2 linked regions of the Homo sapiens genome follow. The protein of the gene in region 1 interacts with the protein of each later gene in a pairwise test. Each region holds a gene or a part of one and is shown on either strand. Other genes may lie near its edges. The genes, in order: PPP4R1 and SASH1.

Evidence for each region.
Region 2: the proteins of PPP4R1 (region 1) and SASH1 interact in a two-hybrid assay, tested with the Homo sapiens proteins (one large-scale study listed by BioGRID).

Annotation. Positions count from the first base shown.
Region 1 is NC_000018.10:9,548,527-9,552,344, forward strand, and holds part of PPP4R1 (serine/threonine-protein phosphatase 4 regulatory subunit 1), read right to left. Parts: intron 1,873-3,818; coding exon 1,752-1,872; intron 1,661-1,751; coding exon 1,526-1,660; intron 813-1,525; coding exon 671-812; intron 1-670. UniProt on the Homo sapiens protein: Regulatory subunit of serine/threonine-protein phosphatase 4. May play a role in regulation of cell division in renal glomeruli. The PPP4C-PPP4R1 PP4 complex may play a role in dephosphorylation and regulation of HDAC3.
Region 2 is NC_000006.12:148,349,072-148,352,889, reverse strand, and holds part of SASH1 (SAM and SH3 domain-containing protein 1), read right to left. Parts: intron 1-3,818. UniProt on the Homo sapiens protein: Is a positive regulator of NF-kappa-B signaling downstream of TLR4 activation. It acts as a scaffold molecule to assemble a molecular complex that includes TRAF6, MAP3K7, CHUK and IKBKB, thereby facilitating NF-kappa-B signaling activation.

The sequences.
Region 1 (3,818 bases):
AGCAAACATAGGTAGGTACCAGCCCCCATACTGCAGATTGCAAGTGGCACGCTGCCAGGCAATGGTTTGTACATAAAAACAACACCCAAGTTTAAAAACTAAGTTTTAGGTCAGGCACGGTGGGTCATGCCTGTAATCCCAGCACTTTGGGAGGCTGAGGCAGGCAGATCACATGAGGTCAGGAGTTCGAGACCGGCCTGGCCAACATGGTGAAACCCCATCTCTACTAAAAATACAAAAAATTAGCTGGGCGTGGTGGCGGGCACCTGTAATCCCAGCTACTGGGGAGGCTGAGGCAGAAGAATTGCTTGAACCCGGAAGGCAGAGGTTACAGTGAGCTGAGATCGCACCATTGCACTCCAGCCTGGGTGACAGGGCGAGACTCCGTCTCAAAATATCAAGCAAACAAAAAAACCTAAGTTTTAAATGATAAAAATGATACATGCTTCCGATAAATAAACTCCAACTAGAACAGTAGAGGGCTAATTAAAAAATCCCTTTCATCTTCCATGCCCTCTTGGGAGAATCACCGGAACAACTAAAGTATTTCCTTCCACCAGATTATTTTCTCTGAGCAGACAATACTTCTGCTTTGATATCTGCTGATCCAGTGCAGTCCACAGACCTCCTTCTCTACTCACACGCTTCTTCTAGTGGAGTCACTACCTACCTTTTTCTAGTAGAGTTTGTCTTAATGTCTTTGCAAGCAGCACTCGCACGTTAGGAACCCTGTCATTTGCTAAGGTTAGCAGATGCGGCATGAGATGCACAGCAAACTGGTCCATGGGAAGGCAGTCATCCTCAATGACAGTCTGGGGAAGAGAAACAGCTGCTCTAGGCTTCTCTGTCAATGTAGCCAAAAACTCGACTACTGGCTAACAAAATCTCTGAGTGACCACAGGTACAAATTTTAGTTATTGCTTTTTAACCAAAATTCCACGTACTTGGGAACTCAAATCAAAAATTACATAATTAACTGCCCACACGGACAGACACAGTTTTTAAACTGCTCTACGGAGACCTAGAGTGTTCATTCACAGGTGTTTCATTTTCACACCTGCGCTCTGGGTCCCAGACATGAGCACCCTCTAGTGGGAACCGTGGTATGGTATATGTGTGCACAGTATGTGTGTGGTGGGGTACATGTATGTATGCCTGTGTAATATGCAGTGAGGAACAGTGAGGAACATGCATGTATGTGCACTGTGAAATGTACATATACACACGTCTGAATGTGTGCAGAGCAGAACACGCACATACCAGGCATGTGGTGTGGAACAAGCACATACAGCAGGCACGTGGGGTGTGTGTGGTGCATGCCAGTGTAAGGAGGGGCTTGGCTAGCTGGGAGAGAGGGGCCACCAGATGCCCAACAATGGGGGCAGATGATCCTATAAACAGCCAGGCTACTATAAGGTTCTGTTCCTTAAGAGTAAGGAAGAGGGTGAGAGAGAGGTAGGAAGTTAAAGAAGACATTCTTCTAGGAGAAAAACTCACAAACAGGTAAGCCCAGGGCCTCGCTTACCTGGCAGACAAAGACAAAGGCTTGCCGACCAGACCACTTGGGACATCTGCCAAAGTTCTCCACAAGCTCATTGATGAGGTCCACTCCGAACGTTGGTGGTGTTGCCGCGTGCAGCTTCTTCACCATCTCGCTGACCTGGGAGGGTGAGCATGGAGAAATGAGGAACAGCTTCCATTCTAGGATCTTAGAGTTTGCTGATCTAAAATTTTAAAAGTTCAATACATACCAACTTGTAGGAAATCCAACGAACAGAAGAAACTTTGTCTGCACACAGATTCAGAGCAATGGGACGTAAATAGTCATAAACATCTCTGGGACTATATAACTCTAGAAGTAAAATCAGCTGTCTACAAAAAGGAATTACAAAAAGACAATGTTTAAAAATCAGCGAGACAAATGAAAATAGGTTACCCATTTAAATCATCTGTAATACTGGATTACTGAGCACCTGTCTCAAACATACGCAAAGAGGAGTGATTAAGCAGACCTCTCCTGTACAGTTACCTCCAGTCTCTGTGTATCTGGAAATGCACTTACATGCTATTCAAGTTCCTTAGAGTGTAAGGAAAACAAAAGCTGTAGAGTTCTGCATCCATGGGGACTGAGACAGAGCAAAGCACTTCCTAGTATGTTCAACTGGAACATGGCCCACACTGATCCATGGTCACAGTTTGGAATGTGCTGAGAAGCTTCCATCTACAATCAAGTTTCTCAGTAAGAAGTCCCCGCAGAGGGAGGGAGTCCACTGTGTACCTGTCGAGGCTCTGAGGAGCCTTCCTGGAAGGGATTTGCTAGGGATAACAGAGGGAGGGTGTCCTCCAGCAACCTTCCCATCACATCTGAGGGGCCCTGAGACTTTCATGACATCTACCAAGCTAACCTGAAAGCTTCAATGATGGCCTTGAAGAAATACCTTGGATGTGAGACTTTTGCCTTTCAGATTTTATGTTCAAGAGGATTTACATTTCTAATAAGCAGAAAGTCAACTGTAACATGAATATAGATTATGCAGCAATGATAAATGCACCTGTGTATACAAATATGCATCCTCAAAGAGACACACTTATTTTCTGACAAAATTCAAAATAAAAATTCCAAATAGGACCAGTTTCTGCTTAGAATACAGAAAACTGCAAAGAACGTCACTGACCCTACAGTAGAAAAAGCTACATAAACTTCAAGATCTTTTCTTGAGCCCATCAGAGAGCTGGGGTTGCAAAGCACACAAACAACCTAACTTCCCAAGATGGGAAAGAGAACTGCCCCTCAGCAGAGCCCGGATGGACAGGACACCTGCTAGCACCTAACAGGGCAGGGAGAAATCAGCTCGAATTGCAGTCAGCTGCCCAGGGCCAGATGGTGGCTGGCAGGAGCATGGGGTGGCTCAAACAAAGCCAGATGTGCCCGACACAGGGAGCTCACATTCCCAGACAACCTTCTGACTTCCACAGGGTACCTGCCTCCCATGGGTGCTTCAAGAAAGATGGTCAGGAAAAACAGGAGAGATGTCTCATAGCAGGCAGAAGCAACTGACTGACAGCCATGAATCATCAAGCACTCTGCTGGGCCCTTTTCTCGTGCAAAGCAAAAGGCTTAACCTGCTGGTGGAGGGGCCCCAAAGCCTGTCCACCCTGTGGGCCCAGCAAAAATACTGCAACTGTGGGAGAGGAGAACTAATGCTCCTTATTCCAGGAGGAGCTGTAGGAAGTCCTGCCCGAGACCAAGCACAGATAGGAGGTCCCACCCATTACGCAGGGGTGCAGGTACCGCTAAACGCCGGGTGGAATACTCACACTAGAAGACCACTGGTACCCCAGCTGCCACCCTCAGCAAACGACAATGGTAGTGGCAGCCCACAGCGAGAAAAACTGAAGCCCCAAGTACACTGAACGTAACCACAGCAATCACAAAACGCAAACCCAGCTTGACCCTGACTAGATGGACTCACACCCCGGCACTATATGGCAGAAGAGGAGGCGTGTGTTTTGAGTCAGAAGTGGGCAAGCCAGAACTCAATGGAGTGGCATCTTTAATATACTGAAAGACAAACTGTCAGCCCCACATTCCATACTCAGCAAAGACATCATTTGAAAATGCAGGTGAGGTCTATAATCCAGAATATATAAAGAACTCTTACAACTCAACAACACAACTTAAGATAATCCAATTTAAAAATGTGCAACAGACTTGGATAGACATTTCTCCACAAAATATACACAAATGGTTGACAGGCTTATGGAAAAGTGTTCAACATCATTAGTCATTAGGGAAATGCAAATCATACCACAATGAA
Region 2 (3,818 bases), on another chromosome or scaffold:
CAAGCAATTCTCCCTGCCTCAGCCTCCCCAGTAGCTGGGATTACAAGTGCCCACTACCACACCTGGCTAATTTTTGTATTTTTAGTGGAGGTGGGGTTTCGCCATGTTGGCCAGGCCGGTCTTGAACTCCTGACAGGTGATCCACCTGCCTCGGCCTCCCAAAGTGCTGGAATTACAGGCATGAGCCACCGTACCCAGCCAATAACTCACATTTATGAACTGCTCATCGTATGTCATGCACAGTTCTATTTATTTATTTATTTATTTATTTATTTATTTATTTATTTATTTATAAGAAGGAGTCTCACTCTGTCTCCCAGGCTGGAGTACGGTGGTGTGATCTTGGCTCACTGCAACCTCCACCTCCTGGGTTCAAGCAATCCTCCTGCCTCAGCCTCTTAAGTAGCTGGGACTACAGGCGCCTGCCACTATGCCTGGCTAATTTTTGTATTTTTGGTAGAGATGGGGTTTCACTATGTTGGCCAGGGTGGTCTTGAACTCCTGACTTTAGGTGATCCACCGCCTTGGCCTCCCAAAATGCTGGGATTACAGGCGTGAGCCACCAAGCCTGGCCTTTGTTCTCATTATTTAAATAATCCTCATGAGAACCCAATGATGTTGGTGACTGTTAACCTCATTTTACAGATAAGGAAACTGAGGTACAGAATAATTAAATAACTCACCCAGGTCACATGTCCGGTAAGGGTTAAAGCCACAATTTGAACTCAAACAACCTAAAATAGTTCCTTTGCTCTTAACTACTTTACTATTCTACCTATCAGTTTTCTAAGAGATGTTCAATTAACTTTTGTTTGTTTGTTTCTAAATGTTTTAACTCACAGATTAAGGTTGTTACTCTTCTCTTTCAAAACTTTTTTTTTAAAAGACTGGGCATTTCCAAACAAGGAATGCTACAAAGTTGTTAATGGTTTATTTCACAAAGGAGGTCCTTAAAATCCTATGAAAACAGACAAAGACAAACTCCTATAGCAAAGATACATATTCTTGAACTAGAGTATTCCTTTCCTCTACAAATAATTTAATGTTGAAACACTAAATTTTTAAAGCACACACACACATAAACATGTTTTAGCTCTAGGTTAAAAACAATTGTTGGCTGACAGCAAGACCAATACAAAATTATTATTAAAGTCAACAAAGTCAAGGGTGCTTAGGATACATTTTAAAGGAAACTAGGTCCTACTAGATTAAGGGCAGTTAAAAAAAAAAAAAAAAAAAGCGGTGAGTAACTAGGGCTCAGGGCATATCCCAAGATTTTTTATTCTGCTCCTCAATGGCTCTTTACTTAAAAATCATGTGATTCTTATAATGCTTTTATTTTCTTTCTTACTACCTCATGCTAGGAGAAAGAAGGAAGCCACAACCAGGCAGAGTGATGGGTGGACACATGGAAACTTCCTCACTCACTACTTGCTGCAAAAGGAATCTAGCAAATAGTGAATGAAACATCAAAATCAACCATGAATGGAACTTGCATCAGACACCCAAGGAGAACTGCAATGTATCTCTGTGAACACAGAGAACATTAGTCTGAAGAGCAAACATAAATACAAATATATTTCCGTTTTCACCAATCATCTTGAAAAACAAACATAAATACAAATATATTTCCATTTTCACCAATCATCTTGAAAGCCATAGAAGAGCCTTTCAGAAAAAAAAAAAAAAAAAAAAAAACTACTATCGCAGAAAGGAAATACTAGCCCTTTCTCAAGCGTTTGTCTTCTGAGTCTCAGAGTTACCATAATGCCTGGATACCCAGTCTCCAGGATGGAGATGTCTGTATTACATGACTTGACATGGCAGGAAAGATACAAGATAGGTTATCTCTGTGAAGCATCTCTCCTCATAAAGAATTAATGCTGCCCAGTGAAACACTTCAGAGAACAAAAGAAGGGACGTTCAACATCTGGCTAGGAGCAAAGCTAATGAGGAAGAGACCTACCATTTTCAGGTCTTCTTACAAAAGTGAATTAATAAATAGATGAGCATATCATTTGAAAAATGACAATTTATGTACTCAAAAAATACATTTTATCTCAAAATTAGTCTGAAGGTTTAGTTAATTCTTGTAGTCTCAGTCTGTACTCACAGGTATTAAATGGTATCACTGATAGTGAGAGTCAGTCTCTGTCCATTTAGATTCACTCTTTTGAGACCAATTTCATTTTTACTAATGCCAAGAATGTGTGTCAACCACAGGTAGGCACATCGTCTATTACAGTGGGATTATGACAGTCAAGTCTTAGACACGAAACAATCAGGTAGCACCACAGCACTCTTAAAAAGGACACATTAGATAAACAATAGTTTTTCCTCTTACATCCTTTGTAAAATTGAGCTACGGATTTGCAAATGAATAAATTTGCATTGAACTACATATTTCCCACTATTTCACTGTACTCTACAATTAGCTTTTAAAAGAATGATTTAAAGATCTTTCAGTGGTGTGCATATTGTTATAAATAATAATTCCCCCTTTTAAGGAACCACATTCTATCAGTATAGAGAGACAGGTATACAAATATTTGTACATATATACATGGATAGATACTTTTTTCTTTTTTCTTTAATAAGAATTACAGATGAGATCTCGCTATGTTACCCAGGCTGGTCTAACTCCTGGCCTCAAGCGATCCTCCAGCCTTGGCCTCCCAAAGCAGTGGGATTACAGGTGTGAGGCGCTGTGCCTGGCCGCCTTTTCCTTTAGAGAGAAAGAAAATCTGCCGGGCGCGGTGGCTCACACCTGTAATACCAACACTTTGGGAGGCCGAGGTGAGTGGATCACGAGGTCAGGAGATCGAGACCATCCTGGCTAACACGGTGAAACCCCATCTCTACTAAAAATACAAAAAATTAGCCGGGCGTGGTGGCAGGCGCCTGTAGTCCCAGCTGCGCAGGAGGCTGAGGCAGGAGAATGACATGAACCCGGGAGGAGGAGCTTGCAGCGAGTCGAGATCACACCACTGTACTCCAGCCTGGGCGACAGAGCGAGACTCCGTCTCAAAAAAAAAAAAAGAAAAAAAGAAAATCACAAGGCATACGACATCTCTAAAATGTCTTGCATTAACTCAGCCCACTCTTGAGCATAAAAGAATTATCAAAAGAAAGTTACCATGGAGCAGTCTTGATTACTTTAGAGACTGTACAAAGTGTTGGGCCTCAGGCAGCCAGAGGACAGGTAATGACTCGACACAGAAACATCTGGTTGGGGCTCTCACTATCCCTGCCTGGGTCACTAAAGTAGTCTCCTTCCCTCCAACCTCATTGCCACCCCATCGCCTACAAAAGTTACTTTTCTGGCCGGGCGGGCGTCGTGGCTCACGCCTGTAATCCCAGCACTTTGGAAGGCCGAGGCAGGCAGATCACCTTAGGTCAGGAGTTCAAGACCAGCCTGGACAATATGGTGAAAACCCATTTCTACTAAAAATACAAAAATTAGCCGGGCATGGTGGCAGATGCCTGTAATCCCAGCCACTTGGGAGGCTGAGGCAGGAGAATTGCTTGAACCTGGAAGGTTGAGGGTTGCAGTGAGCCGAGATCGCGCCACTGTAACTCCAGCCTGGGCAACAGAGTTTGACTCACTCAAAAAAAAAAAAAAAAAAAAAAAAAAAAAGAAAGAAAGAAGAAAGAATGAAATAAAAAAGTTACTTTTCCAAAACACAGACGCAAGTAGTCCCATGCCCAATGGCCTCTTTCACCGGTGCCCACAAACCTTATCCAGCAACATCAGCACCCAGATCTGGGAGATCTGTGCCCTTCCACCTTTGTCCCTCTTTGCTCTGTGGGGAAGGGCC